2 linked regions of the Homo sapiens genome follow. The protein of the gene in region 1 interacts with the protein of each later gene in a biochemical or structural test. Each region holds a gene or a part of one and is shown in the gene's direction. Other genes may lie near its edges. The genes, in order: NR2F6 and NAP1L1.

Region 1 (15,654 bases):
TGGACTGCGTGGTGTGCGGGGACAAGTCGAGCGGCAAGCATTACGGTGTCTTCACCTGCGAGGGCTGCAAGAGCTTTTTCAAGCGAAGCATCCGCCGCAACCTCAGCTACACCTGCCGGTGAGCCCCCCATCCGCGCGCCGCCGCCGTGCACCCCGCCCCGACCTGGGGCAGGCCTCTGACCTGCTCGGTCACCTTGGGCCTGGCGCTGACCTTCCCTGGGCCTCCACTGCCCCCTCTGAGATAGGGGCACAGCACCCTCCTCCCGCATTCCATGGCTGGGATTGTGTATACAGTCGGCGCTACATCGTTGCAGGTTCCCCCCCCATCAGGTGGTCCCTGGAGGCTTTTGCCCCAGTTACTTGCTTCTCCTTCCCTCCGCTTTTTCTCTGGGGAGGGGTCATCTCCGCGCTGGGGTGGGGGTAGGGGTGCTGTCAGGGGTGGTAACCCAACCCCAGGGCACCCGTTCTCGGGGATCCCGGCGCGCGGGATGCCCTCGAGGGAATCGAACGTGGAACTTGGACCGTGGAGCTCGCAGCGTCCAGGGGCCATTGTCTGCGGCCGCGCGGATCGATACGGCGCGCCCTTGGGGTCAAATATCACTTCCAAAGTCGCTGTGGCTACGGAGGCGGCAGACGGAGGGAGGCTGGGGTGGCACGGGGCGGCCTTCTTCGCATGAGGGGCCCAGCGGTGGGGGTGGGGGTGGGAGCTGGGCTTGCCCATCTCAGGGAACCCCTCTGGGCTCACTCTGGGCCTTGGGTCACCGGAAATCGCCACTGGAAGGCCGGCAGGGCCACCGGAATTGACTGAAACGTCCCTCTCCCCCAGGGGTGGGTGCAGACCTGGGGCTCCTGGAAAAATCCCTCAAACTTTGGGTGTCTCTGAGACGGGCAGGGAGTGAAACGTTTCCGAGCAGGAGCCTTGGGCTGTCCCAGGTCGGAGACCTCTCTGGCAGGGCGTGGCCTTGCTAGCTGTTCTGGCGGAAGGTCCCCAGGGAAAGCGATCGGGGTTGTCCAGCCCGGGAGTTCTTTTCTCACCGTTCCCGGGCGAGCATCCGATCTGTCCGTTTATAAGCCCCTACTCTGCACCCCAGGAACATGCAGGGTCTCTGTGGAGCCCGTCTAGACGGTCTCAGTTCCCAGCTGCCCAAAACAGAGGCCCAAAGGCCCAGAGAGAGGTCCTGGTGCCTGCTTTGCGTTGGACATGGAGGGACGCTGCCCGAGTTGGGGGCACTGTGGGGGAACTGTGGGGCTAGGGTGGGGACCGCTGAGTTCGGATCGGAGTGGCCCCAGGGAGAACGGCTGATGGAAGGCTTGTTGGCTGAGGCCACCAAATAGGGCCCCAGGTACCCGAGGGTGGAGTTTGGCCCCAGGTCCCGGGTCAGGGCTGGCCTGGTGTGGCCATGTGTGGCAGAGCTGCCTTGCTCCCTCCTCCAGCACAAAGTGGGCCACTAGACTTTGGCCTCATTCTTGCTGCTGGAAAACCGCCTGCTCTCTGGTCATATCTTTAGGGAGGGTAAGGGAGGGGGGCTCAGGCAGTTTTGGGGTCCCAGGAGCTTCCTGAGGGTGGTGTCAGGGAGCAGCAATTTTGGGTGGGGGGGGCCTTGCTTGGAGCTGACAGGTTTGTGCTGTGTCAGTTGTGTGACCTGGTGAAATCACCATTCCATTCTGAGCTTCAAATGGATTGAGCAGGGTCTCGCTGGGGCCCAGCCTGGGTAGTTTGATGCCAGCCCCTCCAGAGAGACCCCAGCTCCAAGTCTAGCTCCTGAGAAGCCCCCAGTCTGGAGGAGACACAGTGAGACAGATGCCCCAAGTCTGTGGGATCTGGGGTCCCAGGGAGAGAGCAGAGGCTCTGCCTGGAGGTCAGAGAGGGCTGCCTGGAGGAGGCTAGGGGACATGAGCCTTGAAGCATGGAGTTGGCAGGTGGAAGAAAGGCCACAGGGACATGCCAGAATGTGGTCCAGACAAAACACTTAGTGGCAGACTGGGGGAGCTGTGCTGTAAGAGGGGGACTGTGCAGCCATGGGAGAAGTCAGAGCTAGGTGGGCCTGAAATGCTGGCTGAGGGTAATGGGGAGCCATAGAGGGTGTGTGAGCAGGAGAGGGCTCTGATCAAATTGGACTGGAGGCCAGAAGCCCAGGGAGGAAGCTGAGTTGGGCCATGGGGTTGGGCAAAAAAGCTTGCACTCTTTAGGTGGGATAACAGGAAGAACTTAACTGTTTCCCTCCTTGGAGGGATGGATCTGTCCCAATTCCACAGCTGGGGAAGTTGAGACTGAAGGTTCAGGGCCTCCCCTGAGGTCAGGGGCCCCTGAGCTGGGCCTCTGCCTGCCTGCAGGGCCGCCCCAGGCCAGGCCGTTTCCACCCGGCTGCCCTGGACCCTCCCACCACCCAGCCGCTGGGCTTTGTTCTGGTTCTGCCTGAGCTCCCTCTGCCCTAGTGGGGCCTCTTCCCAGGGGCTCAGTGGCTGGTGCTGCAGGACCCAGGCAGTGGTGGAGGGGGGGTACGGGGGAGTGGGCGCAGATCCTCAGCTTTCCTAAGTTGGGTTCTCCGGCTGGGCTCTGGGTCTTGGCACTGTCCCCCGTGAACCCCTCTGACCCAGTCCATCCCATATGATAGGGCAATATCTGACCTCCCATTTTCAGATGAGGAAACCGAGGCTCAGTGGGGCAGTCGCCACCTGAGGGGCAGGGCTGGGTATCTGCAGCTGAGATTCATCTGTTTTGTTTTGTTTTGTTTTGTTTTTGAGACGGAGTTTCACTCTTGTTGCCCAGGCTGGAGTGCGATGGCGTGATCTCAACTCACTGCAACCTCTGCCTCCCGGGTTCAAGCGGTTCTCCTGCCTCAGCCTCCCAAATAGCTGGGATTACAGGCATGCGCCACCATGCCCGGCTAATTTTGTATTTTTAGTAGAGACAGGTTTTCTCTATGTTGTTCAGGCTGGTCTCAAACTCCCAACCTCAGGTGATCCGCCCGCCTCGGCCTCCCAAAGTGCTGGGATTACAGGCATGAGCCACTGCACCCAGCCTTTTTTTTTTTCTTTTTTTTTGAGACAGAGTCTCACTCTGTCACCCTGGCTGGAATGCAGTGGGTCAATCTTGGCTCACTGCAACCTCCACCTCCCCAGTTCAAGCGATTCTCCTTCCTCAGCCTGCCAAGTAGCTGGGATTACAGGCATGCGCCACCACGCCCAGCTCATTTTTGTATTTTTAGTAGAGACGGGGTTTCACCATGTTGGCCAGGCTGGTCTTGAACTGACCTCAGGTGATCCACCCTCCCCCGCCTCCCAAAGTGCTGGGATTACAGGCGTGAGCCACTGCAGAGATGCATCTGTTTAATTCCCTTAAGTGGTGGTTCTACTCTGTGACTGTCTCTGTGTGTCCCCTGGGTGTCCAGCTGGAACCCCAGGGGTAGTTGCTCCAGGCCCAGGCCTTGGAGAGCCCCCAGCTCCTGGTGGCAAGAGACCAGGGGAGTCCAAGGGCAGGGGCCAAGGGGAGAAGGTTCTGGGGACATTTGAAGAATAAGGCCTGGACCTTCCTGCTTGGGGGCTGACCCAGGATGGGGAGCTCACCACCTCTCAGGGTGGGGCCACCTGTCTCATCCCTGCAAGAGGCAACGGCATTCACTGAGGGCTGACCAGGAAAATCTCCAGCTTGCATAGGGGTTGGGTGGTCCTCTCGGAAGAGCGTAGGTGTGGGGCCTTCAGGGCTGAGGACCAGAGTGACTTTGTTTACTTCCTCATTCCTTGGGGTGGGCATTGTGCGGGTGATAATGCTGGGGCCCCACAATGCTATGACCCCACAGACCACTAGCCCCTGGCCTGACCCCTAGTTAATTCACAAAGTCCAGCTCTCTGACCATGTCCTCTTTGCCTTCACATCTTTTTGGGGACAATGACCCTGCTCAGCCTGACAGTGACCAAATAAAATGAAACTCTTTAGGCCTCCATATTTGTGTATTTCAACCCTTTTGCTCTGGCTGTACCCTCTCTCTGGGATCACCCCGCCATTCACCTGGAGAACTCCTATTCATCCTTCAAAACCCATGCCAATGTGCCCTCCCTGGGGTGTTCATCTGCTTTTCCACAGATTCCTCTTCATCCATCACCACTCATCCGGGTTATCCTGTCTGGTTTGCAGACCTGCAAGCTGAGCTCCTGTACCCCTTTGGGGCTACCTCTCCAGTCTAGAGGGCCCCTACTAGTATTTCTGAGGGGCAGCCTCCAAAGGCGGCTCATAGGCTGGTTCGGGGAGGAGGATATGGGGGTCTCAGGGAGCCCTGGCTTCTGTGTGCCCCCAGGTCCAACCGTGACTGCCAGATCGACCAGCACCACCGGAACCAGTGCCAGTACTGCCGTCTCAAGAAGTGCTTCCGGGTGGGCATGAGGAAGGAGGGTGAGTACGTGCTGGGGACACACTGGGGACGATCACAGCCGCTGGAGCCGGGGTGAACAAACAGCTTCTTCCTCCCCTTTTTCCCCTCCCTTTCACCCCTCCCTTTCACAGGGGTCTGGGTGCCTCACAGGGTGGGGGCCGGCGCCTGCTAACCTCATTACCACTGATCCCTTGATCCCGTGGGCTGCAGTCTGGCCCTAGGCTGGAGGAATCCAATTAGGATCCGTGGCCCCCTGGTTGCTGCCGTGGAGCTGAAGAGGCCAGGGACGCCCCACAAGGGACTTTCCCCAGCCCCATTCTCTTGCAGGAGCTGCCTTCCCCAATTACCCCCGACTCCAGCCTCAGAGGCCAGTTCCCTGGCCCTGACACCTTGGTGACCTCTTGTCTGCTAGCGCGGCCACCGCGTTCTGAACAAGGATTTTTTTTTTTATTTGATTTGTTTCTCCTCCACCCTTCACCCATGCTTTTTGTTTGCCCAAGGCAGGAACTCTGCCCGATTAAGGCAAAGGGCAGCTTACCCTTTCTTCTGACCCCGGGCGCTGGGAGCAAGAGTGAGGCCCAGCTGTCTCTGCTCAGGGGACCCAGGTGGACGGGCGTATTCTGGGCTGCTGGGCCTAGAACTCTGCCAAACCCCCTTAGAATTCAAGTAGAACCCAGAGATTTCTGCATGGATTTCTGGGGTTCAGGAATAGAATCTAGCCTATTGGACGAGATCTCCTGTGCTGGGTTTCAGGTTCCTCTGGGGACTGTGTCGTGGGCCAGGCTGGCAGTTCTTTCTAATGTCTAACCTGAGCCTCCCCTGCTTTGAAGTTTTTTTTTCCTTATTTTCTTTATTTATTTTTATTTTTATTTGAGATGGAGTCTCGCTCCATCTTCCAGGCTGGAGTGCAGTGGTGTGATCTCAGCTCACTGCAGCCTCCGCCTCCCGGGTTCAAGTGATTGTCCTGCCTCAGCCTCCCGAGTAGCTGGGACTACAGATACGGGCCAACACGCCCAGCTAATTTTTTTTTTTTTTCTGAGACTGAGTCTTGCTCTGTCGCCCAGGCTGGAGTGCAGTGGCATGATCTCGGCTCACTGCAGGCTCCGCCCCCTGGGTTCACGCCATTCTCCTGCCTCAGCCTCCGGAGTAGCTGGGACTACAGGCGCCTGCCATCTCGCCCGGATATTTTTGTATTTTTAGTAGAGACGGGGTTTCACCATGTTAGCCAGGATGGTCTCGATCTCCTGACCTCGTGATCTGCCTGCCTCAGCCTCCCAAAGTGCTGGGATTACAGGCGTAAGCCACCGCGCCCGGCACGCCCACCTAATTTTTGTATTTTGTTTTGTTTTGTTTTTGAGACAGAGTCTCGCTCTGTTGCCAGGCTGGAGTGCTGTGGTGCCATCTCGGCTCACTGCAACCTCTGACTCCCTGGTTCAAGCGATTCTCCTGCCTCAGCCTCCTGAGTAGCTGGGATTACAGGCACATGCCACCACGCCCAGCTAATTTTTGTATTTTTAATAGAGATGGAGTTTCACTATGTTGGCCAGGATGGTCTCGATCTCCTGATCTCGTGATCTGCCCGCCTCGGCCTCCCAAAGTGTTGGGATTACAGGCGTGAGTCACCGCGCCTGGCCTAATTTTTGTATTTTTAATAGAGATGGTGTTTCACCGTGTTGGCCAGGCTGGAGTCTCCAACTCCTGACCCCAGGTGATCCGCTCGCCTCAGCCTCCCAAAGTGCTCGGATTATAGGCATGAGCCACCCCACCCGGCAGCTTTTTTTATTTTCTAGAGACAGAGTCCCACTATGTTGCCCAGGCTGGTCTCGAACTCCTAGCTTGAAGCGACCCTCCCACCTTGGCCTCCCAAACTACTGGGATTACAGGAATGAGCCACCATACTTGGCGTAAAGCTGTTGTTTTTTGGTCTAGGCCTTGGTGGGAGAAGCTGAGAGAGGCAGCTGAGGGGCTTTCTTTTAAAACTGATCACTCCCTGTGGCCCTTTTAAGTTTGGGGGTAACTTTCTTGTCCCTGCCCCCATAACATGGATTTTGCCTCTACTTGTCTATTTTACCTAAAATCCTCATATATCTCAAGTCATGGCCTCAGAGCAAACAGCCTCGCCAGAAGTCTCCAAAAGCCTCGGGTGGAAATATTTATGATGACAGCTCATGCTTTAAGCACACCTGCCTCGGGTCCTTTGCACGGGCTCTTCCCTCTGCCTGGAGTGCACTTTTTCCAGGTCCATACATGGCTCCCTCCCTAACCTTGCCTTCAAGGTTTGCTCAAACATCACCTCCTCAGGGAAGCCCTCCTGATCCCCCTGTATTTGACGCCACCTGTCTTGTTCTGTAATTTGCTTACACCCAGAATGTCCATTCCCTGTGGGCAGGTATTTTTGTCTGTCTTGTTCCCCAGCGCCTAGACCAGGGCTTGGTACACAGTAGGTGTTCAATAAATGGTCCTTGGCTTGAATTACCATGTAATTACCTTTCCTGTGTGGCAGGCATTATTTTAAGGTATAGATTCTCATTTAATTCAGTGATTGGTGACATCGTTTTTGAGACGGGGTCTCACTCTGTCTGGAGTGCAGTGGTGCGATCATAGCTCACTGCAGCCTTAAACTCCTGGGTTGAAGTGATTCTCCCACCTCAGCCTCCTGAGTAGCTGAGATTACAGGTGTTCGCTACCATGCTGGGCTAATTTCTTAATTTTTTGTAGAGACGGGGTCTCGCTATGTTGCCCAGGCTGGTCTCAAACTCCTGGGCTCAAGCGATCTTCCTGCCTCAGCCTCCCAAAGTGCTAGGCTTGCAAATGGGAGCCACTGTCTGCATTTTACAGATGAGGAAACTGAGGCACACAGCAGATTGGTGAGGCCATTTGTCAGAGAGCAACAGAGTTGTGATTGGGATTTGAACCTCCACAGTCTGGGCTGAAGAGCTGGGGAGGGGTTTGAGGAAGAGTGAACAGAAAGTGCAAAGGCCGGCCAGGCGTGGGGGCTCACGCCTGTAATCCCAGCACTTTGGGAGGCCGAGGTGGGCAGATCACGAGGTCAGGAGATTGAGACCATCCTGGCCAACATGGTGAAACCCCGTCTCTACTAAAAATACAAAAATTAGCCAGGCGTGGTGGCAGGTGCCTCTAATCCCAGCTACTCGGGAGGCTGAGGCAGGAGAATCACTCGAACCCCGGAGTCGGAGGCTGCAGTGAGCTGAGATTGTGCCACTGCACTCCAGCCTGGTGACAGAGCAGAACTCTATCTCAAAAAGAGAGAGAGAGAGAGGGAGAGAGAGAGAGAGGAAGAAAGGAAAGGAAAGAAGGGAGGGAGGGAGGGAAAAAAGAAAAAGAAAAAGTTCAAAGGCCCTGGGGTGGGAATGTGGCCATGTGAGGGAGTGGTGGTTGCTCACAACCCAGTGAACAAAGCGGGAGGAAGCTTCCTGGAGGACCGGGGAACCACTTTTGGGCCCCATCCACCTATCCCCATTTGACAGTTGACTCAGACTCAGGGACCCCTTGGAGCGGGCTTCAACCCATGCCCTGGCTTCTCCGCTTAGCTCTGTTCGCCCCTGGCTTCTGCTCGCGTTCCCCTCCGGTGTTTGCTCTACACAGAGTTGACCTGGAGTTCACGGAGGTGATGAGATGGGGCATGCCAGCTCATTAAAGCTCATTAATTAGTCTGCTGGCAACCAGCCCAGTCAGCCCTGCCATCCCGCCCACCCCGGCACAAGCCAGGCAGGCACATGGCCAACTCTCTTCCTCTTCATGCCTCAGTTTCCCTTTTCTCACCCACCTGGTCACTGCAGACGTGCCCAAGCCAGCAGCAGGGCCTCCCCGCTTCATAAGCAAGGCTACTGATGGCGGCTAATGTTTACTGAGGACCTATGGCAGCCCCCCTGGGACCCCTCCTTACTGTAGGTCCCCCCCAACCCTTCCCTGCACTGTAGCCTCTGCAGGGACCCAGACCGGCCCTCAGGGGTCACCATCTGGTGGGGAGGGGGATGGAAGGTAGAGAAATGATCCCTGTTCCATAGGAGAGAGCCAGTGCTGGGTGGGTATTGATCTGTTGCTTTGGGGACCAAGCTGGCCAGGGTCCCCAAGTCCTCCATGGCCCATCCTCAGCTCTGGGAACCCCATGACTATCTGTTAGGAGGCTCCAAAAGGTTTATTAGATGCTCCTCCTTGTCCCCAGGAGCTGGGGGTGGGGGGTGGTGGCTGGACCTAGACAGGGACTCCTGGACTCTTACTTTCTAACCAGCCTGGCGCCCATGGGGTGGGGTTGGGCATTCTGGGAAAGGCTGGGCCTGGAGGCTTTGGAGGGGAGGGCCTGAGTGACCCCTTGATGACTTTTGTCTCCCTTTCCCGTTATTCTCCCTACCTGCCCCCCCCCACCTGCCCCCCACCCCATGTCTCTATGGGCACCTACTTGGCCCCTCATCCCCCCTCTTCCGGCCCTCTCCTCTCTACCCCTCGCTTCCCTTCCTGTCTCTCCAATCTCCTCTCCTCCCGGCCTTCTGTGCCCCGCCCTCCCCTCCCCCATCTCCTGTCCCTCCCCCGTTTCCTGCTGCCCGCCCCCCCCCCCCCCGCCTCCCCTCCCGCCCCCATGTCCCTCCTGTCCCCGCCTCCCGCAGCGGTGCAGCGCGGCCGCATCCCGCACTCGCTGCCTGGTGCCGTGGCCGCCTCCTCGGGCAGCCCCCCGGGCTCGGCGCTGGCGGCAGTGGCGAGCGGCGGAGACCTCTTCCCGGGGCAGCCGGTGTCCGAACTGATCGCGCAGCTGCTGCGCGCTGAGCCCTACCCTGCGGCGGCCGGACGCTTCGGCGCAGGGGGCGGCGCGGCGGGCGCGGTGCTGGGCATCGACAACGTGTGCGAGCTGGCGGCGCGGCTGCTCTTCAGCACCGTGGAGTGGGCGCGCCACGCGCCCTTCTTCCCCGAGCTGCCGGTGGCCGACCAGGTGGCGCTGCTGCGCCTGAGCTGGAGCGAGCTCTTCGTGCTGAACGCGGCGCAGGCGGCGCTGCCCCTGCACACGGCGCCGCTACTGGCCGCCGCCGGCCTCCACGCCGCGCCTATGGCCGCCGAGCGCGCCGTGGCTTTCATGGACCAGGTGCGCGCCTTCCAGGAGCAGGTGGACAAGCTGGGCCGCCTGCAGGTCGACTCGGCCGAGTATGGCTGCCTCAAGGCCATCGCGCTCTTCACGCCCGGTGAGCCACGCTCCGAAGAGGGCCGCGGGATGGGGGGACCCAAGGGAGGTTAGGAGGAGGGCGGCCTGGACCCAGACTCCGGCCCCCATAGCGCCCCGCTCGCTCCCTAGGCCTGGGGCCCTGCACGCGCCGTGAGTGAACGCTCTTGGGTGGCTGTAGAGGGGTGATGTAAGCAGTGTGACACTGTGACACCCCCACTCCGTGATCCCAGGACTCTCGGAGAACTCTGAACCCCGGACCCCAGACCCAAGGCTGGGCCAGGACCAGGGCCCAGACCCCAGAACCCTCTTCCTGTTCCCAGGCTCCCTGAGACCCCTACTCCCTCACCAAAGGGCTCTTCAGGCTTAGTGAGCACTGATAGCACAAGGTTGGGGGGACGTGGGAGGGAAGGTCCTGACCCCCTGGTTCTGGCCCCCTCAGGCCCCCACTGGGCTCCCAGGGCAACCTCCAGGTAGCCAGGGTTGTAGGGATCTGGGTAGGGGCGTGGCTCGGAGGCCCCTCCCGTTGAGGGGCGGGGCAACCCCAGAACTTTCTTAACCATCAGCTATCTAGCAGTGGTAGCCCATCGTATTCCAGCGACTGGCGGTACAGCCAAATTTTTTTTTTCCACTTTATTTTTTTATTTGTATTTCCATTTTTTGAGACTGGGTCTCACCCTGTCACCCAGGCTGGAGTGCAGTTGTCCGAACACGGTTCACTGCAGCCTTGATCTCCAGGGCTCAAGCAATCCTCCCTCACACTTCAGCCTCTTGAGTAGCTGGGACCACAGGCGTGCACCACCATTCCCGGCTAATTTTTTTTTAAACGTTTTCTGTAGAGACGTGGTCTCACCGTGTTGCCTAGGCTGGTCTTGAGCTTCTGGGCGCAACCAGTCCTGCCTCAGCCACCCAAAGTGCTAGGATTACAGGCATAAGCCACCATGCCTTTAGACAAAGATCTCTCCAGCCTGTCTCCTGGGAGTTCTTTAACCTACTGGAAGTCTCTAGATCCCATCAGAGGTATCTTTGGGGCTAGGAACCAGATCCAGGCTACTCTGGGAGGTGGCTTTCATTTGATAAATATGGTTTTGGGCCTGCAAGGTGGCTCAGGCCTGTAATCACCGCACTTTAGGAAGCAGAGTTGGGAGAACCACTTGAGCCCAGGAGTTCGAGGCTCCAGTGAGCTCTGATTTTCCCACTGCACTTGAGCCTGCGCAACAGAGTGAGACCGCGTCTCAAAAATCAATAAATATGGCTTTATTTATTGTTTTCCCAGAAGATTTTTTTTTTTTTTTTTTGAGACGGAGTCTTACTCCGTCGCCCAGGCTGGAGTGCAGTAGCACGATCTCGGCTCACTGCAACCTCCGCCTCCCTGGTTCAAGCTATTCTCCTGCCTCAGCCTCCTGAGTAGCTGGGATTACAGGCACGCGTCACCACGCCTGGCTAATTTTTGTGTTTTTAGTAGAGACGGGGTTTCATCATGTTGGTCAGGCTGATCTCGAACTCCTGACCTCATGATCTGCCCGCCTCAGCCTCCCAAAGTGCTGGGATTACAGGCGTGAGCCACCGCGCCTGGCCTTCCCAGATTTCTTCTTGGCTTCCTATCTTGGGTCTCTCTCTAGAGGCTGCCACATTCTCTCACACCGTAGGCCCTTCTGGGCTCTGTCTTCCTCATCAAATTCCCTTCCCAGCCCCACCTTCCCTGCGAGCTTCCTTAGAACCCATCTCCTTGGCCTGGCTGGTGGCCCTGTAATCCCAGCACTTTGGGAGGCCGAGGTGGGGAGATTGCTTGAGGTCAGGAGTTCAAGACCAGCCTGGCCAACACAGCAAAACCCGTCTCTACTAAAAATACAAAAATTAGCTAGGCGTGGTGGAGTGTGCCTGTAATGCCAGCTACTTGTGAGGCTGCGGCAGGAGAATCACTTGAACCCGGAGGCAGAGGTTGCAGTGAGATCGTGCCACTACACTTCAGCCTGGGCGACAGTGTGAGACTCTATCTTAAAGAAAAAAAAATTAGAACCTGTCTCCCTGCCAAAGGCATGAGTTGGGTGCCAGCCACCCTTGAAACATCACTGCCTGCACCCCTATGTCACTGGTTAGATGAGAACACCTCACTATCTCTGGAGGATCGACACAGTCTTAGATAGTCCCATTTGCATCCCAGGGTCGTTTTTTGTTTTGTTTTGTTTTGTTTTGTTTTGTTTTGTTTGAGACAGGGTCTTATTACTCTGTCGCCCAGGCTGTGCTATGATCATGGATCACTGTAGCCTCAAACTCCTAGGCTCAAGAGATCCTCCCACCTCAGCCTCTTGAGGAGCTGGGACTACAAGCGTGTGCCATCACACTGGACTAATTTTTATTTTTTATTTATTTTGAGACAGGGTCTCCCTCTGTTGCCCAGGCTGGAGTGCAGTGGCACGATCTCGGCTCACTGCAACCTCCGCCTCCCAGGCTCAAGCGATCCTCCCATTAGCCTTCCGAGTAGCTGGAACTGCAGGCACGCACTACCATGCCTGGCTAATTATTCTTATTTTTAGTAGAGACGGAATATCATCATGTTGGCCAGGCTGGTCTTGAACTCCTGACCTCAAGTGATCCACCTGCCTCAGCCTCCCAAAGTGCTGGGATTACAGGCGTGAGCTACTGTGCCCAGCCCCAGCTGATTTGTTTTTGCAGAGAAGGGATCATACTATGTTGCCCTGGCTGGTCTCAAATCCTGGCCTTAAATGATGCTTCTGCCTTGGCCTCCCAAAGTGCTGGGACTGTGGCCGTGAGCCATCATGCCCGGCCCCCTGTTCTTACCCACAGTGGCGAGTGGTGTCCCCTAGTCACCCCTGTGGGCTCTGTGTTCTCTAGCTGCCTCCCACCTGTCTGACTTGCCTTTGTCCCCCTAGACGCCTGTGGCCTCTCAGACCCGGCCCACGTTGAGAGCCTGCAGGAGAAGGCGCAGGTGGCCCTCACCGAGTATGTGCGGGCGCAGTACCCGTCCCAGCCCCAGCGCTTCGGGCGCCTGCTGCTGCGGCTCCCCGCCCTGCGCGCGGTCCCTGCCTCCCTCATCTCCCAGCTGTTCTTCATGCGCCTGGTGGGGAAGACGCCCATTGAGACACTGATCAGAGACATGCTGCTGTCGGGGAGTACCTTCAACTGGCCCTACGGCTCGGGCCAGTGACCATGACGGGGCCACGTGTGCTGTGGCCAGGCCTGCAGACAGACCTCAAGGGACAGGGAATGCTGAGGCCTCGAGGGGCCTCCCGGGGCCCAGGACTCTGGCTTCTCTCCTCAGACTTCTATTTTTTAAAGACTGTGAAATGTTTGTCTTTTCTGTTTTTTAAATGATCATGAAACCAAAAAGAGACTGATCATCCAGGCCTCAGCCTCATCCTCCCCAGGACCCCTGTCCAGGATGGAGGGTCCAATCCTAGGACAGCCTTGTTCCTCAGCACCCCTAGCATGAACTTGTGGGATGGTGGGGTTGGCTTCCCTGGCATGATGGACAAAGGCCTGGCGTCGGCCAGAGGGGCTGCTCCAGTGGGCAGGGGTAGCTAGCGTGTGCCAGGCAGATCCTCTGGACACGTAACCTATGTCAGACACTACATGATGACTCAAGGCCAATAATAAAGACATTTCCTACCTGCACAGCCTCCCTGGTCTTTATTTTTATTTTTTATTTTTGAGACGGAGTCCTACTTCGTCACCCAGGCTGGAGTGCAGTGGCGTGATCTTGGCTCACTGTAACCTCTGCCTCACAGGTTCAAGCGATTCTCCTGCCTCAGCCTCCCCAGTAGCTGGAACTACAGGCACCCACCACGATGCCCAGCTAATTTTATTTTTGGTAGAGATGGGGTTTCACCATGTTGACCAGGTTGGTCTCGAACTCCTGACCTCAGGTGATGCACCTGAGGCCTCCAAAAGTGGATTACAAGCGTGAGCCACTGTGCCTAGCCTCACTTACTTTCTTTTGGTCAACCTTAATCTTTTTTTTTTTTTTTTTTTTTTTTTTTGAGATGGAGTTTCGCTGTTTCACCTGGGCTGGAGTGCAGTGGTGCAATCTTGGCTCAGTGCAACCTCTGCCTCCCGAGTTGGAGCAATTCTCCTGCCTCAGCCTCCTGAGTAGTTGGGATTACAGGTGCGCACCACCACGTTCAGCTGATTTTTGTACCTTAACTAGAGGGGTTTTGCCATGTTGGCCAGGCTGGTCTCGAACTCCTGACAGGTGATCCACCTGCCTTGGCCTCCCAAAGTGGTGTGATTATAGGCATGAGCTGCCGGGCCCTTAATCTTGTTTGGGCTCCAATGTCCTTGGGAGAAACCTCTGGGGCCAGTCCTGTCACATGATGTAAGGCGAGCCAATCAGAGACCACCATTCCCTGGGCCACAGCAACTGGTTTATGGAGGCCCTGGGATGCCAAACTAGCCAGTGAGATTGCACGGTGGGATTTGGAACTGGGAGAATCTAATTAAAGCAGAGCCAAGGATGGAAGATCAATTTCCCAAGATGCCTTTGGAGCCCCAGATCAAGCCATACCTGAAACCCTTGGGTGTTTTAAGTTCTGTGAACTCAGTCTCCCCCCTTTTGTGCCTGAGTCAATCTGACTTCAGTTTTTTTTCTCACATGGAACTAAAAATCTGTTTCAGAGATTGACGTTTGGGAGTCAGGCACCTACAAGGCCAAGACTTTGAAATGTGGGCTTCACTGGGTTGATACGGAATCATGTGGGGTACCAGGGACTCTCCCGTCCCAGCCTCGGGAGTGTGTGGCACAGCTCTGTGGTGGGAAAGGCACCTGTGGAATTCAGCACCAGAGCTGTAGGGCAGAGAGAAAGGGCCCGAATGGTGGTGGGGGTGGCACCTCTCACTGATGTCCTTCTGTAGCCAGGCGTGGTGGCAGGAGCCTGTAATCCCAGCTACTCGGGAGACTCAGGCACGAGAATCACTTGAACCTGGAAGGCGGAGGTTGCAGTGAGCTGAGATCGCACCACTACACTCCACTCTGGGCAACAGAGGAAGACTGTCTGAAAAAAAAAAAAAAAAGAAAGATGCCCTCCTGAAAACAGCAAGGGAAGAAGTCAAGTCTGTCACGCTGCCTGCTGGGCCAGTGCTCAGCTCTTAAGCAGCCCCAGTTTGCCAAAATGCTCCCTAGTCTCCCCATGTCCATCTTGAAGAAAGCCTTGGAAGACGAGAGATTAGGCCCCTCCTGTGGAGTCAGTGAGGGTTTCTTGTGGGCACGTTCCCAGAAGGGAACTGAGGCAGGGGCGGGATGGAGAGGACACCAGGTTCTCGTTGAAGGCTGCACTGGGTTTTGCATTAGGTCAGGGTCTCTCCATGGTGTCCTGTGAGTGAGTGGGTCCATGTCTACTCCAGTCAAACTGGACAGCAAGGTCTCATTTATCCAATGCACAGGACATCTGAGGGTTGAGTGAGACCATGGTGTCTGTCCTGCTGTTTGGCCCCAGGCCAGAGATCTGGATGTCTGTCCAAGGCCTGACTGCTGAACTCCTACTTTTCCTACAAAACCCTACCCACATGGCCCTTCCTGCGGGAAGAGATCTTGAGCCTCCCTGGCTATTAAGACTCTGCTGTGCAGCCTTCTTTTACTGGACTCAGGGCTATCTTCCCCAGACTAGGGCCTTCTTGAGGACAATCGTGGTGGCCCAGTGGTTGACGCTGTCTCCCCTGCATGTAGTTGGTCTTCCTGGTTGCTTCTTGCCCCTGTGGCTCCCTTGGGAGACTGAAACTCAGAGGACAGCTTCTGGTCTGCTGTTACATGGCTCCCACAGGGAGACTGGCCCCACCTGTGCCCCACCCATCACAGCTAGGGCCTGGGATGGGTCAGACACTGGAAGAGCCTCCCCCTAGGCCATGCATATGGACCGTGCCCACACACTGGGGTCAGTTGCTGTCCTGAAGTGCCCAGGGAGACACAGAGAGTGAAGAATCCAGCTGGACGTGGTGGCTCATGCCTGTAACCCCAGCACTTTTGGAGGCTGAGGTGGGCGGATCACTTGAGGTCAGGAGTTCCAGTCCAGCCTGGCCAACATGGTGAAACCCCGTCTCTACTAAAAATATGAAAATTAGTTGGGCATGGTGGCAGGTGTCTGTAATCCCAGCTACTTG
Region 2 (16,182 bases), on another chromosome or scaffold:
AGAGTTAAATGAGATAAAGCATTCAGGCAATTTAGAAAAATACTCAACACATAGTTAATGGTAGCATTTGCTGCCTCAACTCCTACTGTTTCAGTTACTCTCTCCTGGATTTTTGTAACATATTTTTCAAAAATGTTTCTAAAATATTTTTTATTTATTTTATTTCAATTTTTTTTTTTTTTTGACAGGGTCTCACTCTGTTGCCCAGGCTGGAGTGCAATGGCTCACTCACAGCTCACTACGGCCTCGACCTCCTAGGCTCAGGTGATCCTCCCACCTCAGCCTCCCGAGTAGCTAGGACCACAGGCATGCACCACCATGCCCAACTAGTTTTTGTATTTTTAGTACAGATGAGGTTTCACAATATTGCCCAGGCAGGTCTTGAACTCCTAGACTCAAGCGATCTGCCCACCTCAGTCTCCCAAAGTGCTGGGATTACAGGCATGAACCACTGCTCCCAGCCCAAAATAATTTTTTCATATGATTTTAGAATAGGTTTAATCTGGCTCATGACCTGTATACATAATACCACCCTGATTGTGGGAAACTATGTATTGTATTTTTTTCATTACTAAAAAGTGGTATTTCTTTTTTTTTTTTTTTTCCTTTTTGTGTGTGTGTTTTTTTGTTTGTTTGTTTTTTGTTTTTTTTTAAGACAGAGTCTTGCTCTGTCTCCCAGGCTGGAGTGTAGTGGCACGATCTCCACTGACTGCAACCTCTGCCTCCCGGGTTCAAGTGACTCTGCTGCCTCAGCCTCCCGAGTAGCTGGGACCACAGATGTGCACCACCACACCCGGCTAATTTTTGTATTTTTGGTAGAGGTAGGGTTTCACCATGTTGGCCAGGCTGGTCTCAAACTCCTGACCTCATGTGATCCACCTGCCTGAGCCTCCCAAGCTGCTGGGATTACAGGCGTGAGCCACCCCGTGTGGCCTAGAAGTGATATTTCTAATAGAGGTTCAGTTTTAACTCCTGAAGGTAGTGAGGATGAATAGGCCCAAATGAAACTGACAAACATTTGATATCAATACATTTAATGATGGCTTTGCTAGAGTTTTTCTGTATGTGAAATACACGCCCAGCCAAAGGTGGAAGTTATCATTTGAGTAGTGTATTCTGCAATGTATTTTCCACACAGCCTTGAACAATCAGTCCAAAACTTCTTTCATACAGCTATTCTCTTGCCAGAAATCCTATCCTGTCACAAAGCAAGTTCTTACTTCCCTGTCAAGATTTGTTTTCACTGTCACTTCTGTGAAGTTGGCTCGCTGTCCTCTCCTCCATTGTTACACTTACATTGAGTGGTAACAGTTTGTTTACTTGTCTGTTTATATTGCAGTGATTTCCTTGAATTCTGGGACTCCCTCTTATGCCTTTAACTGGAAAGGATGGAGTCACAGGCTCAGGGTCTGATTTGATGCTAAGCTGCCTGTATTCTGATCCTAACTCTGCCACTAGTGGCTAATATGGTGTGGAGACAGGTGCTGGATCTCTCCGAGTCTCAACTACCTCATCTATGACACAGAGATAATAACAGTATATCATAGGGTTGTTGTGAGGATTCTATCAGTTAGTATTTGCAAAACTCTTTAGAATAGTGTCTGGCACAGAGAAGTGGTGTCAGTGGTTATTACTGTTGCCATTGACTTGATTTTTCTTTATTTCCAGATTTTATTTCTAGTTTGCTCTAATTGCTCAAATTTACTTAGCATTACGATTAATGACAAATCTAATTTTACTGCTTTTTGCTCCTTCTACCTTCAAGAACTAATCTTTTGAAATATAAGAGAATCACAATTTGATCCTGCAGAGATGGAATATTGAGAAATGAAGTATTGAACTTCTGTTATTGGCGAAAGGTGCATAGCTACCTTCCACTTTTTTTTAACTTATTCTATAATTCTTCCCATTCCGATAAGTCCCCCCTTGATCAATAAATTGATTCCCTTTTATTTCTGTACTTCACTCCCATTATCTTCTATTCCAATTATAATGTGTATAATATGTGTTTGTATTTAATTAGTAAAGATGTTCATCTCACCCCATTATATCATGATGTACTTGATGCCAACATGGCTTATAACTCATAATGTTAACCTTGATCATTTAGTTAAGGTAGTGTTTGCCAGGTTTCTTCACTATAAAGTTAATATTTTTCCATTTCCATACTATTTTCTTTGAAAGTGAGTCATTGTAATTCCATACCACAACCAAAAGGACAGGATTAATCTCTATCTCCTAGAGAGGAGTGTCTACATATATTCTTTAGAATTCTTTTTTTTTTTTTTTTGAGATGGAGTCTTGCTCTGTCACCCAGGCTGGAGTGCAATGGCGTGATCTCGGCTCACTGCAACCTCCACCTCCCGGGTTCAAGCGATCCTCCATGCCTCAGCCTCCTGAGCAGCTAGGATTACAGGCACCTGCCACAGTGCCCAGCTAATTTTTGTATTTTTAGTAGAGACAGGGTTTCATCATGTTGGCCAGGCTGGTTTCGAACTCCTGACCTCAGGTGATCCGCCTGCCTTGGCATCTCAGGTTGCTGGGATTACAGACGTGAATCACTGCGCCAAGCCTAGAATTCTTCTATAAGATAAATTTCTCCCTTTATCACTTAAGTATTTATTCAATAATACTTATATCATTATGGACTCATGGATATTTATTTTACTCTCTGAATTATAATCCAATACTATCACTGTTTTGTTGGTTTTTTTGGGTTTTTTTGTTTTTGTTTTTGTTTTTTTGCTGAAATTGTTCCAGCTTTGGCCACTGGGGAACTCTTTCCAATTGCCTCTGGTGTCCTTTTGACCTCTCTCCTACTTTTATAATTTTCTTTTTTTTTTTTTTTTTTTTTTTTAGCACTATAAGATGTTCCAGACTCGTCTTGCGTTTTCCCTCCTTTAATTGGAAATGGTATTTAGAAACTAAGATTTGTGAACTGGTCATGCTTGTTGTTACTGTGGTGTCACTATGTGTTAGGCTGTTCTTGTATTGCTATAAAGAAACACCTGGCCAGGTGCCGTGGCTCATGCCTGTAATCCCAGCACTTTGGGAGGCCGAGGCAGGTGGATCATGAGGTCAAGAGATCGAGATCATGCTGGCCAACATGGTGAAACCCTGACTCTACTAAAAATACAAAAATACAAAAATTAGCCAGGCATGGTGGTGTGTGCCTGTAGTCCTAGCTACTTGGGAGGCTGAGGCAGGAGAATTGCTTGAATCCCGGAGGCAGAGGTTCCAGTGAGCTGAGATCATGCCACTGCACTACAGCCTGGTGACAGAGCAAGACTCCATCTCAAAAAAAAAAAAAAAAAAGAAAAAAGAAAGAAAAAGAAACACTTGGGGCTGGGTAATTTATAAAGAAAAGAGGTTTAGTTGCCACATGGTTCTGCAGCCTGTACAGCAAGCATAACATTGGCAGAGTGGAGTGGGGGAGGTACCACATTTTACCAGATCTCATGAGAACTCATTCCTCACTCACTATGGTGAGGACAGCCTCAAGCCATGAAGGATTCTGTCCCATGACCCAAACATCTCCCACCAGGCCCCACCTCCAACATTGGGAATTATATTTCAACATGAGATTTGAGCAGGGACAAATATCCAAACTATATCACATTGCTTCTAGGCTTCCTCAGTGGGCAAAGCTAGGAAATATATTAGCCTATGTATATATACATCTTTATTGTCCATCTATTTATCATCCATCTATCATCTATCTATAAGCATGAATTCATTCATACCTCTATCTCTGACCCTAATCCAGCACCCCATGGTTCATTCTAGCCTTCTCTCCTTGCTTATTTGTGACTTTTTCCCAGTAGCAAGAGACCTGGCTCCCATTATCTACAATTATTTAGTTATTTGCCAAACCCTAGTGTTAGGAGTTGAATTGTGTTATCCTAAAATTCATATGTTGAAGTCCTAAACCCCGGTACCTCATAATGTGACCTTACTTGGAGATAGCATCTTTACAGAGATAATCAAGTTAAAATGAGGTCATTAGGGTGGGTTCTAATCTGACTGATGTCCTTATACAAAAGGGAAATTCAAACAGACACACACATAGAGGGAGGCACAGGGAGAGGACAGCTATTTACAAGCCAGTGAGAGAGATCTGGAACAGATCCTTCACCCACAGCCCTCAGAAGGGACCAACTCTGCTAACAACTTGATTTGGGATTTCCATCCTCCAGGACTATGAGAAAATACATCGTATTGCTTAAGCCACCCAGTTTGTTATGGTAGCCCTAGCAAACGAATACAGATTTCCTAGTATACAGGGAAATTAGTTTCCAAATTGCTAATGCTTATTATCTCTTTGATAAATAAATTTATCAACTATAGTGCAATGTTTATGTGTAGCTCTTTTTGCCTTTAGCCTTATAGTGTCCAGTCAAAATACTGTTTTCGAAAGTCAGCTCCTTTTTTACTCACCCCCTCAGTGAGATTATATGTTTATAATTCAGTTAGATTAATTTGTCACAGTCTGCATCTCATCCTAGGATCCCCCAACATCTGGTTGATTTTCTGAAAAATTGAATATAGCAAATGGATTTTGCTCAATGTATATAGTCATATATCCACTACCTATAAAATATAGAACAATTCCATTATCTTTAAAAAATCCCCTCTACAACCCCTTTGGAGTCAACTCTGCACCTCTCCTCCAACCCCTGGCAATCACTGATGCTTTCTATTTTCATAGTTTTGCCTTTTACATATGCTGTAGAAATGGAATTGTAATATATAGAGTTTTGAATCTGACTTCTTTCACTTAGCAAAAATGCATTTGAGTTTCATCCATGTTGTTGAGTGAATTGATGCAGGACAGGTGAGCCCCAGAATTGAGGCTTAGTCCTGGAGCGATCTTGGCTTTGCCCAGGAAAGAATTCAAGGGTGAGTGGCAGTGTTAAATAACAACTTTTATTGAAGTGGCAGGGTACAGCAGCAGCAAAGGTACTCCTCCTGCCAGAGCAGAGTTACCCTACAGGCAGTGTGCCCAGAGTAGCAGCTCAGAGGCACTTCTGCAGTCCTATTTATACCCACTTTTAATTATATGTAAATTAAGAGGTGGTTATGCAGAAGTTTCTAGAATAAGCGTAGTAACTTCCAGGTCATTGCCATGGAAAGGGGTGGTAACTTTCAGGTGTTGCCATGGCAATGGTAAACTGACAAGCACACTGGTGGGTGTGTCTTATGGAGAGGTGCTTCCACCCTAGACCTGTTTTAGCTAGTCCTCAATTTGATCCTGATGTCCAAACCCCACCTCTGGAGCCAAGTCCTGCCTCCTACCTCAGAATCAGTAGCTCCTTTCTTTTTATTTCCATCGTATAAATGTGCCACTGTTTGTTTATCCACTCACCTGCAGAGAGAGATCTTGACTGTTTCCTGGTTTTGCCAGTTAGAAATAAAGTTGTATACGTGTGTGTGTTTGTGTGTGTACATAAGTTTTCAATTCACTTGGGTAACTACTCAGTAGAAGGATTACTGTGTCATATAGTAAATGTATATTAAACTTTATTTCATTTATTATTAAAATTTTTTTGTTGTTCATTTTTTGTTTTTGTTTTTGTTTTTGTTTTTTTTGAGATGGAGTCTCACTCTGTCACCCAGGCTGGAGTGCAATGGCATGATCTCAGCTCAGTGCAACTTCCACCTCCCAGGTTCAAGTGGTTCTCTTGCCTCTCAGCCTCCTGAGTAGCTGGGATTACAGGTGCCGGTCACCACGCCAGGCTAATTTTCTCTTTTTAGTAGAGATGGGGTTTTGCCATGTTGGCTAAGCTGGTCTGGAACTCCTGACCTCAGGTGATCCACCTGCCTCAACCTCCCAAAGTGCTGGGATTACAGGCGTGAGCCACTGTGCCTGCCGGCCTATTTTTAAATTTTTTTGAGACAGAGTCACGCTCTGTCACCCAGGCTGTAGAACAGCAACACGACTGCTCACTGCAGCCTCGACCCCCCCACATACACCCCTCCACTCCCCCCGGCTCAAGTGAACATCCCACCTCAGTCTCCTGAGTAGCTGGGACTACAGGCATGCACCACCATGCCTGGCTAATTTTTAAATTTTTTGTAGAGACAAGATGTTGCTGTGTTGCCCAGGCTGGTCTGAAACTTCTGAGCTCAAGCAAAACTCCCACCTCAGCCTCCCACAGTGCTAGGATTACAGGCGTGAGCCACTGAAGAAACTGCCAAACAGTCTTCTGAAGTGATTGGACCATTTTGCATTCCCACCAGCAGAGTTAAGAGTTCCTGTTCTTTTATGTCTTTGTCAGCATTTTGTACTAATGTATTTTTTAAAATTTGAGCAATTCTAATAGGTGTGTAAGGGTACCTCATTGTGGCTTTATTTTGCAACCACTACATTTTAAAGATTCAATATTGCCATATTACATTCAATGTTCTGCTACATAATACTCCATGTTGTGCATATACAACATTTCACTCTCAATTGTCCCAGTAATGGGCACTCTGATTGTCTCCAAATTATACTGTGTAATTTGTTTTCTTTATTCATTATGATCTAAAATATATCAACATTTCTTTACTTTCTTTTTACCAGCAAGTTGTTTCATGGATGAGGGAAAATAATATCCAAACAAATACCCAAATAATATTCAAACGAAAACCCAAACAATGTCCAAACCATATTCAAAATCTTCTTGTGCAGATTAGGTTGTCAAATTTGTCCAATATAGACTCTATGATAAATGTAGAATTGATGTAATAGACTTCAAAAAAGGATTATTTACATGAAGTATTGTGACTTCCTGTTCGTTTTCAATAACCTCTTTATTTCCTTTCTCCATCCTTCCCTTCCTTTCTTCCTTGCATCCTTCCTTTCATTTCATTCTTTCAAGCAAATAAATATTTACTGAAAGCTGTTCACGGCCAGTCACTGTTTAAACCAAGGGTATGTAAAAAACATAACACTGCCCTGCAGCAGTTAACAGGCTAGTGTGGTGTGTGTTATGGGAGAAGGAAACATGGGCTCATGAATGAAAGAATGAATGAATTAATTAATAAATACATATCTACATAAATACCCACATACAAGTGTTGTCCGCAAACAGAGAAGGGTTTGCAGCCAGCTTTGTCTTGATGAGTCAGAGAACTTTCTCTGACTTGATTAGACTTATATTTTAGAGCAATAACTTTGGTAGATTGAAGTGGAATAAGAGATTGGTATTAGGGAGACCAACTGTGAGGCTATTGCAAATGGTTTAGGTAAGAAATATTGAAGGCCCGCACAAAACAATGGCATATTTTCTTTTTTTTTTGTGATGGAGTTTCGCTGTTGTTGCCCAGGCTGGAGTGCAATGGCACGATCTTGGCTCACCGCAACCTCCGCCTCCCAGGTTCAAGCAATTCTCCTGCCTCAGCTTCCCGAGTAGCTGGGATTACAGGCGTGTACCACCATGCCCGGCTAATTTTGTATTTTTAGTAGAGACAGGGTTTCTCCATGTTGGTCAGGCTGGTCTTGAATTCCCAACCACAGGTGATCCACGTGCCTCGGCCTCCCAAAGTGCTGGGATTACAGGCGTGAGCCACCGCGCCCAGCCTAACAATGGCATATTTTCTACCTAAGTGGTCTATGTGTGAGAAACAAAATAAAATAAAATCTAGGAATGTAGAACATTATTTGGCATATAAAAAAACAAAAAAACAAAAAACCCTGACCATAATAAAAGGTCAACATACACTGCAATAATCCTGTCCAGGAAAAAAAAGAATTAAAATTTAAAAATAAATGAATGAAAGGGCAACATAAGGGATCCTTGGGCGATATAGCTGATCTGTATCTTCTTGGTGACAGATACACAAAGCCACAAATGGTAATATTGTATAGAACTAAATCCATAAACACACAAATGGATCCAAGTGAGACTGGGAAAATCTGAATAAGATCATGGATTGTTACCATTATGGTAAACTGGGGAAAGTTTTCATGGATCTCTCTGTGTTATTGCTCAAAACTTCATGTGAATCTATAATCATTTCAATAAAAAATTCAGTTAAGTAATGACAGGAAAATAAAAATATTCTTAAACAAGGCAAGCATAGTGGCTCATGCCTGTAATCCCAGCATTTTGGGAGGCTGAGGTGGGAGGACCTCTTGAGCACAGGAGTTGGAGACCAGCCTGGGCAACATAGTGAGATCCCCAAAATAAAAAAATTAGCCAGGCACGGAGGTGTACATCTGTAGTCCCAGCTACATGGGAGGCTGAAGTGGGAGGATTACTTGAGCCAGGGAGGTCAAGCTGTAGTTGTACCACTGCACTCCAGCCTGGGTGACAGAGTGAGACCTTGTCTCAAAAAAAAAAAAAAAAAAAAAGCCAGGCACAATGGCTCACTCCTATAATCCCAGCACTTTGGGAGGCCAAGGAGGGCGGATCACCTGAGGTCGGGAGTTTGAGACTAGCCTGACCAACGTGGAGAAACCCCGTCTCTACTAAAAATACAAAATTAGCCAGGCGTGGTGGTGCATGCCTGTAATCCCAGCTACTACTTGGGAGGCTGAGGCAGGAGAATCGCTTGAACCCCAGAGGTAGAGGTTGCAGTGAGCCGAGATCGCACCATTGCACTCCAGCCTGGTCAGCAAGAGCAAAACTACGTCTCAAAAAAAAAAAAGATTTTTTTTTTAAACAAAAAAACTATTAATCCTTTTTTTTGAATGTAGAGAGAAAAATGTAAGGCATCTTATCCATAATTTTCCACTTGGAATTTGATTACATTGCAGCTATAAATTAATTTGGGGAAAAGTAGAAAAAAAATCCAGATCTGAAACTAACGTAACTGTTATTTAAATGTATCTTGTGCAGTTTTTAGATGATAATTATTATTAGTTCCCTTGGATGTTTTACCTACAGATTAATTCAGAGGGAAGAAAATAAATACTGAGTACTTAAAGGGCAAGTCATTGCTCTGGGAACTTACATACATTTCTCTATTTCATGCTAATAAAGACACAGATTTTATTATAATTATTAATGCATTTTTCAGATAGGGAAGCTTGAAGATCAGAGTGGATAAGTACTTTTGCAAGGTCACAGTGTTGAAGGAGCCTATACCTGTCTGATGTTAAAGCCTATGCTTTTTTTTCTACTACATAGGGGCTGAAACACAGACACAAGCACAGGTAAAATACCATCTTTGTCATCAAATTTCTTGTTGATCTTCATAGTTCTTATCCAATATTGAGAAATGTTGACTATAATATTTTTGTGGTAATTGGTGTGGATTATTTCAGCTCAGGAAAATGTCTTTTAAAAGCTGTGACTAGATAGCTTTTAATAAAATATGTCACAAAAAGTGTCAGACACTATCAGAAGACTTCGGGGTAGTTCCTTAAACCTTTAAATAAAACAAAAATAAAAACAAAACTTCAGTAAGAGGTTAAAAATGGTTACCTTTTATTGAGCGGTCACTATATATGTCAGGCATTATGTTAAGCAACTTAAATGTGTTATTTAAAGTTTCACAGCTGAGCCAGGCACAGTGGCTTACACCTGTAATCCTAGCACTTTGGGAGGCCGAGGCGGGTGGATTGTCTGAGCTCAAGAGTTTGAGACCAGCCTGGGCATTGTGCAACCCCATCTCTACTAAAATACAAAAAAATTAGTGGGATGTGGTGGCGCGCACCTGCAGTCTCAGCTACTTGGGAGGCTGAGGCACAAGAATTGTTTGAACATGGGAGGCAGAGGTTGCAGTAAGCCGAGATTGCGCCACTGCACCTCAGCCTGGGTGACAGAGTGAGACTCTGTCTCCAAAAGTTTCACAGCTGGGCAAGGTGGCTCATGCCTGTAATCCCAACACTTTGGGAGGCTGAAGTGGGAGGATCTCTTGAGTCCAGGAGTTCAAGACCAGCCTGGGTAATATACCAAGATCCCTCTTGACTTAAAAAAAAAAAAATTTTTTTAAGTTTCACAACAGCCCTATGAAAAATGCATGCTTATTTTCCCCATTTTACAGATGTGGAAAATGAAACCTGGGATGGCTAACTGACTTATCCAAAGTTACACAGCTATTAAGTGGTAGAAAAATGGGGACAAAATAGGCTGTTTGACTCCAAAGCCACCCCTCTAAGCCTCCAGGCTACAATGCTATAAAAGTCTACCAAATGAAAATCATGGGAGATAGAGAAAAAAGGACCTTTAATTTTAGTATATATGCTTCCAAAGAGAGCATGAGAAAAGGAACTGCAACAGAAAATTTCGCATGGCCCAAGATCAGTGACCAGGGTCACCATTTATTGCAATTAAGTTAGATGAGTTAACTACATTGTGTGATTTGGGGGTATAAGAGGGGCCAATGTAAAAAGCTCAAAGGTGGCCGGATGCAGAGGCTCACACCTGTAACCCCGGCACTTTGGGAGGCTGAGGCAGGCGGATCATTTGAGGTCAGGAGCTCGAGACCAGACTGACCAGCATGGTGAAACCCCATCTCTACTAAAAACACAAAAAAACTAGCTGGGCGTGGTTGCGCCTGCCTGTAGTCACAGCTAATCGGGAGGCTGAGGCAGGACAATTGCTTGAAACCGGGAGGCAGAAGTTGCAGTGAGCCGAGATCGCGCCACTGCACTCCAGCCTGGGCAACAGAGTGAGACTCCGTCGAAAAAAAAAAAAAAAAAAAGCTCAAAGGTATCTTCAGGTCAGTCACCTCCTACCCCTTTTCTCATTTTATTTTCTTTATAGCATTCACTTATCAATTATTTATTATTGATAAGTGAAATTGTTTTATTACTAATATTTTATTAGTAAAATTATTTTATCTCTAATCATTTGCCTCACCTCACTAGACCATAACTTCAATAAAATCAAGAACCGTGTCTTTCTTACTAAATGCTGTATTTCCAGAGTCCGAAGTTGTGCCTGACATAAATATTTGTTGAATGAATGCATAAATGTCTGCCCTTCCCTGAACTTTAATGGCAAAGACTTAGATTTACAAACTGGTTCAAAAGACTATATTACAAAGGCATGCATTATTAGAAATATTTTATTGTTTAGTTTCTTAGATTGGCTAGGATACACTGAAAAAAGAAGAGGAAGCTGGAGAAAAGGGGGAAAGAGCATATGTACTGGTAATGATAACACCTAAGTTATAGGGGTTGGTGGGGGGGTGGTGAAACCTAAAAAATCCAGAGCCTTCATGAGCGAAGTGCCGAAAATTGATGAGGCTCTCTGGTGTGGGATAAAAACCACCACAAAAGCTAACTTCTCAATTTTGTCTCAGAAATTCTGCTACCATAAAGATTTATGGAAAGAAAGTGAAAGTTATTTAGTTCATTTTAATATGCTAATTACCTTGCATCGTGCACAGCTTTGATTAAAATGCAACATTCCTGAAGTTCTTATTGAAATTAATGTGTCAAATTTATGTTCAAACTGAGCACTGGTCTACCTTGTTTATGTATAGTGGGTTCTTCCTGAAGATCCATTATTGATGCTATTATGCTCCTTGTATCATTACATCATTGTTGAGAAGGGTGTACAGGAATAGGCTATGAGAACAACAAAGGAATTGTATATGAAAAACTAAAATGAATGAATAAACAGAGTCGTCTGCAGTATAGAGTGGGAAGGCAAATAATTTCAATGAGGTTCTGGAGGGCCAAGGAAAACATTGTATCCCCTAAAACGGAAGATAAAGTTGCTAAATGTGTGGATTACAATAGGGGATTCTAGGCAGTTTGAAGTTTCAATAAATGCAAGATTTAGAGAAGAGGTTCTCAAACTTTGTGGTCTTAGGATTCCTTTACACTCCTTTAAAAGTTGAGGACCCCAAAGAACTTTTATGTGCATTACTGATACTGATATTTATATCAGAAATTAAAAGTGAGAAATTTTAAGAGTATTTCATTTAAAAACAATAAAGCAATCAAATATTAACAAAAAATAATTTTTATATGAAAAATAACTACTCCCCCTTGCCCCCAAATCGAGTTTTTGCAAATCTCTTTAACGTCTGGTTTAACCGCAGATGACTGGATTCTCCTATCTGCTTCTATTTTCAGTCTGTTTCCTTATCACATGTCACGTAGCCTCCGGAAAACCCCACTGTACACTTGTGAGAGAATGAGAATGCAAAAGGCAGTCTTGACATTAATATGGAAATAGTTTTGACCTTCCCCATGAAAGGGTCTGGGGACCCTCAGACCATACTCTGAGAACAACTTTTTGAGTTAGTATTAGTCAATTCATCATCACTTGAAAATTAGCTATGAGGTTTTACAAGCCTGAGGATTTAATGTGATTTACTTTTTCAGAAAGATGAAACAACGGACGTACTGAGTGTCCTCATTATAACGCATCCAGAGAATGCACAAATATGCCATTTTCATCCGTCAAAAGAACTGAAGCCGAACTGACGGACTGTACATCAGTTACGAGGATGTGGCGGGGGGTTGGGGGGCAAAGGATGACGAGCACCCCCTAAAGGCGCGGAGACCCGCTGGCATAGGAGAAGCAAAACTGTCAGAAGAGGCCGCCGAAGTGGTCTAGAGGAAAAAACTGTTTTTCTTAGGCGGGGAAGGAAAACGGTTACCGGGGGCCGGCGAGTTGCAGGAATTAGGCCTTGACAGGGAGCGTCCGCCGTCTAGGCTGCGGCGAGCGAGGGACCAGGCGACTGGCGCCAGCCCTGAGCGTTCCCAGCACAACGCCGAAGGGGGCGGGGCGGGCCGGGCGCCGGGCACGCGGGCCAGGCCTTCCCCACAACTGATGGGGTTGAAATTTCCTTTCCGGCTCAGCAGGGAGAAAAGATATGGTGGGGTGCTTAACAGAGGAGGTTAGACACCGGCGGGAACCAGAGGAGCCCAAGCGCGGCGCCTGGGCCTCGGGGCTGCAGGAGTCCTCGGTGGGGGTATGGAGGTCGCCGGGGAAGGAGGACGGTTCAGTTGCTAGGCAACCCGGCCTGGACCCGCCTCTCGCTCGCGTTGCTGGGAGACTACAAGGCCGGGAGGAGGGCGGCGAAAGGGCCCTACGTGCTGACGCTAATTGTATATGAGCGCGAGCGGCGGGCTCTTGGGTCTTTTTTAGCGCCATCTGCTCGCGGCGCCGCCTCCTGCTCCTCCCGCTGCTGCTGCCGCTGCCGCCCTGAGTCACTGCCTGCGCAGCTCCGGCCGCCTGGCTCCCCATACTAGTCGCCGGTAACGGATGGGGGCCTGGAAGGGAAGGGGGAACGTGGTGTTGGCTGGGCGGCCTGCGCAGATGGGAGGGCCGGAGGGATGGAGGGACTGGGAGCCGGGAGTCGGGGCCGCTGGCCGCCCGTGGCCTCCGGGGTCGTCCTGTGAGGTCGGACAGGACCGCGGAGTCCGGACCCCGGAGCCTGAGAGGGGCCCCGGGGCCGACCAGCGCTTTTATCGGGGACGGCTGAGGCGACGTAGGGGTTGGCGCGGCCTGGAGGCCTAAGGTTCTCTGAGCTCCACCGTCTTTTCCGCGTGGACCGGAGCGAGGCCGCGGTGACGCCCGGGTGCCCTGAGACTCGGCTGCGCCGCGAGGACCGGGAGGCCCCCGGCGTACGGGCCGGGCCGAGTGCAGAGCCGGCCGCCTCTTGGACACCCCCCTGCTTTTCCCTCAAAAATAATACCAGGAGGGAGGCCGCTGGGAGATGAAAAGAACGGCGGAGGCTGCGAATTCCGACGGGAGGGAGGGGCTGTGGAGGGACGAGTCCCCGAGGCGGGGAGGGGGCGGGGGAGGCTGCGACGCTCCCGGGCTCTCCGCCCATTGGGGGCGGCCGCGCGGGGAGGGGAAACCCCCGGCGGCTTCGCTCCACACGTGGTAATGGGCTTCATGGCCACTGGCTGGGCCTGGTTGGAGACCCTTGCCCTCGGTCTGTGCTTACTTTGAAAGTTGTAGAGACGGTGGAATGTGAAAAGGAAGGGTAAGCGAGTAAGCCCTGTCCCTGGGTTTCAAACTCTTCCCTGCTTCTCTTTGGTCTTAATCTTTTTATTGGTACCAGAGATTGTGGATGTTAGCTGATGATAAGGAAGGGCCTCCACTGCTAGTATTTTAAAAAGTTAACGCGTATATAGCGCTTATATTAACTGTTATTAGCAAAAGGTTGTTATTGTGTTTCCCAGGTACTGTTAGATGGGTGTCTTGATCAGGGTTTTTTATTTGGGGAGTATTGATCCTGATCGATCTAAACCCCTAAACCAAGCTTGTCCAACCCGCGGCCCAGGACGGCTTTAAATGTGGCCCAACACAAATTCATGAGGTTTTTTTTTTTTTTTTTTTTTTGGAAAAAAAAGCTCATCAGCTAGTTAATGTATTTTACGTGTGGCCCAAGACAGTTCTAGTGTGGCCCAGGGAAGCCAAAAGATCGGACCACCCCTGCAAACGGTTCTTAGATGAAAATAAAATGTTTGGCCCTTTATGACTTTAATTGTTCTTGGCTGTCTTATAAATTAGTTCCTTTATTGAAGTCACTAGAATAAGATACTTAACGGTTTCCTTTTTAAGATGGGAGGTGGGATGGAATGAGGTGTTAGTATAAACTTTGCCAAGTTTGTAGCCTGCAACCTTGTCAATGAACCCTACTGCCCTAAAGATCTGGGGGATGGCAGTGTAGGGGGGCTGGGACTGAGGTCCCATCTGGGAAGGCTAGACTTTGAGAGTGCAAAAAGGATGAACCAGGCGCAGGATGTCCTCAAGGAGCCCGTATTTTAGACGGTCACTGATCAGTTTTGAAACAACTACATTTTAAAAATCTCACTGCTACATTTGAAGATATCCCACTGCTGCATTTTAAAATTTACACTGCTTGCCTGGTTTCACAAGAGCTGTAAAATGAAATTTGGCCTTTTGAAAATAGGTGGATTCAAAACATCTTTGGAAACGAGTATCTGGGTCCTCTTTTTTTGGTCAGCTTAAATTAATACTCCTATACTTTGGAAGTAATATACATTACCTTTGATTGAATAAGGGAAAAACCTTTTATGTATAGGGTACCATTTAAAAATCGAAGGGAAGTAAATGACTTTTACAGTTATTTTCAAGGCACTCTTGTGTTTCAAGCTTGTTTGAAGTTGCCCAAGTTTAAATAAATGGCCTAAATCTATAGTTTAGTTCTAAGAATACTGTCCTTTGGAGAATGTATGGAACTAAACCCTGGTAGGTGGACTTGGACATCTTCTGTCATAAAACCTGACTTTCATAGATTCTCCAAGTCAACATTATGTTAGTAAATAGAAATTTAAAAGTTTTCACTATACCAATTTGAATATCTTTCTAAATTTTATCTGCTACAAAGTGCCTATTTTTATATTAGGCCCATTGATTTGCAGAATTATAAAGCTAATACTGAATATGGTAAATTACTGCACTTGGCCTTTAATGAGATTTTTGAAACGAATACCTGTACCATAACTAATGTAATCCAAAATGCCATCTCATTTTATTCAGCTTGCTCCTGTTGGCTCCTGGTAAAACTGAGTTGATTCTAAATTCTCAAAATATATTCAAAACTAAGGGTCTTTTTGTAGAAGGGGCTAAAGAAGCAGTATCTGTTGGACTTCAAAGGTCTGAAGATGTCAAAATACAATATTTTATTCACTTCTTGGTTGTAAATTTGAAACAAAGGATTAGAGAGAATGACTCATCAATATCAAAATATTAATGATCAGTGTATTCAGATCTTCAAGTTTAATCAAACCTGTAATTGTGTTCTCAGTTTAGTCTTTGGGTAACTATCTAGCACCTGTATGGACATGTATCTTATGTCATGAGCAAAAGAGGCAAATTGGTTGCTTAGATGTAGAATGTTAAATTGTGATGAGAGCTATAAAGGAAGGAAAGGGTAAAGGGGTCAAAGAGTAATACAGCGTTTACACAAAGGAACCTGTTATAATTTGATGATTTTAAGTTCCATTTCAAACTAGTTTCATCTAAATAAGTTTTTGGGCAGAATAGGGGTTAGAAGGAGAGAGTTGTTACTTTACACCTATCCATATGTAAGTCGTTTAGCACAATGACTACAGAACATTAGAGTACATTAGTGGGCTTGCCATAGAAAATGGCTTCTATACCTTTGGTTACCAACTCTGCCTTTTACTTCCTGCATATTTGTATATATTTTTACTTATTCAGAAGTTTTGTACATTTTAATTTTTATTGGGAAACAGGGTTATATATATTTTTTCCTTGTGGAGACAGGCTCTTGCTGTGTTGCCCTGGCTGG

The links.
Region 2: the proteins of NR2F6 (region 1) and NAP1L1 form a complex in vitro, tested with the Homo sapiens proteins (one study listed by BioGRID).

Annotation. Positions count from the first base shown.
Region 1 is NC_000019.10:17,229,407-17,245,060, reverse strand, and holds the end of NR2F6 (nuclear receptor subfamily 2 group F member 6), read left to right. Parts: coding exon 1-118; intron 119-4,295; coding exon 4,296-4,390; intron 4,391-8,995; coding exon 8,996-9,562; intron 9,563-12,434; coding exon 12,435-12,709; 3' UTR 12,710-13,178; downstream 13,179-15,654. UniProt on the Homo sapiens protein: Transcription factor predominantly involved in transcriptional repression.
Region 2 is NC_000012.12:76,081,535-76,097,716, reverse strand, and holds the start of NAP1L1 (nucleosome assembly protein 1-like 1), read left to right. Parts: upstream 1-13,031; 5' UTR 13,032-13,150; intron 13,151-13,774; exon of another isoform or gene 13,775-13,884; intron 13,885-16,182. UniProt on the Homo sapiens protein: Histone chaperone that plays a role in the nuclear import of H2A-H2B and nucleosome assembly.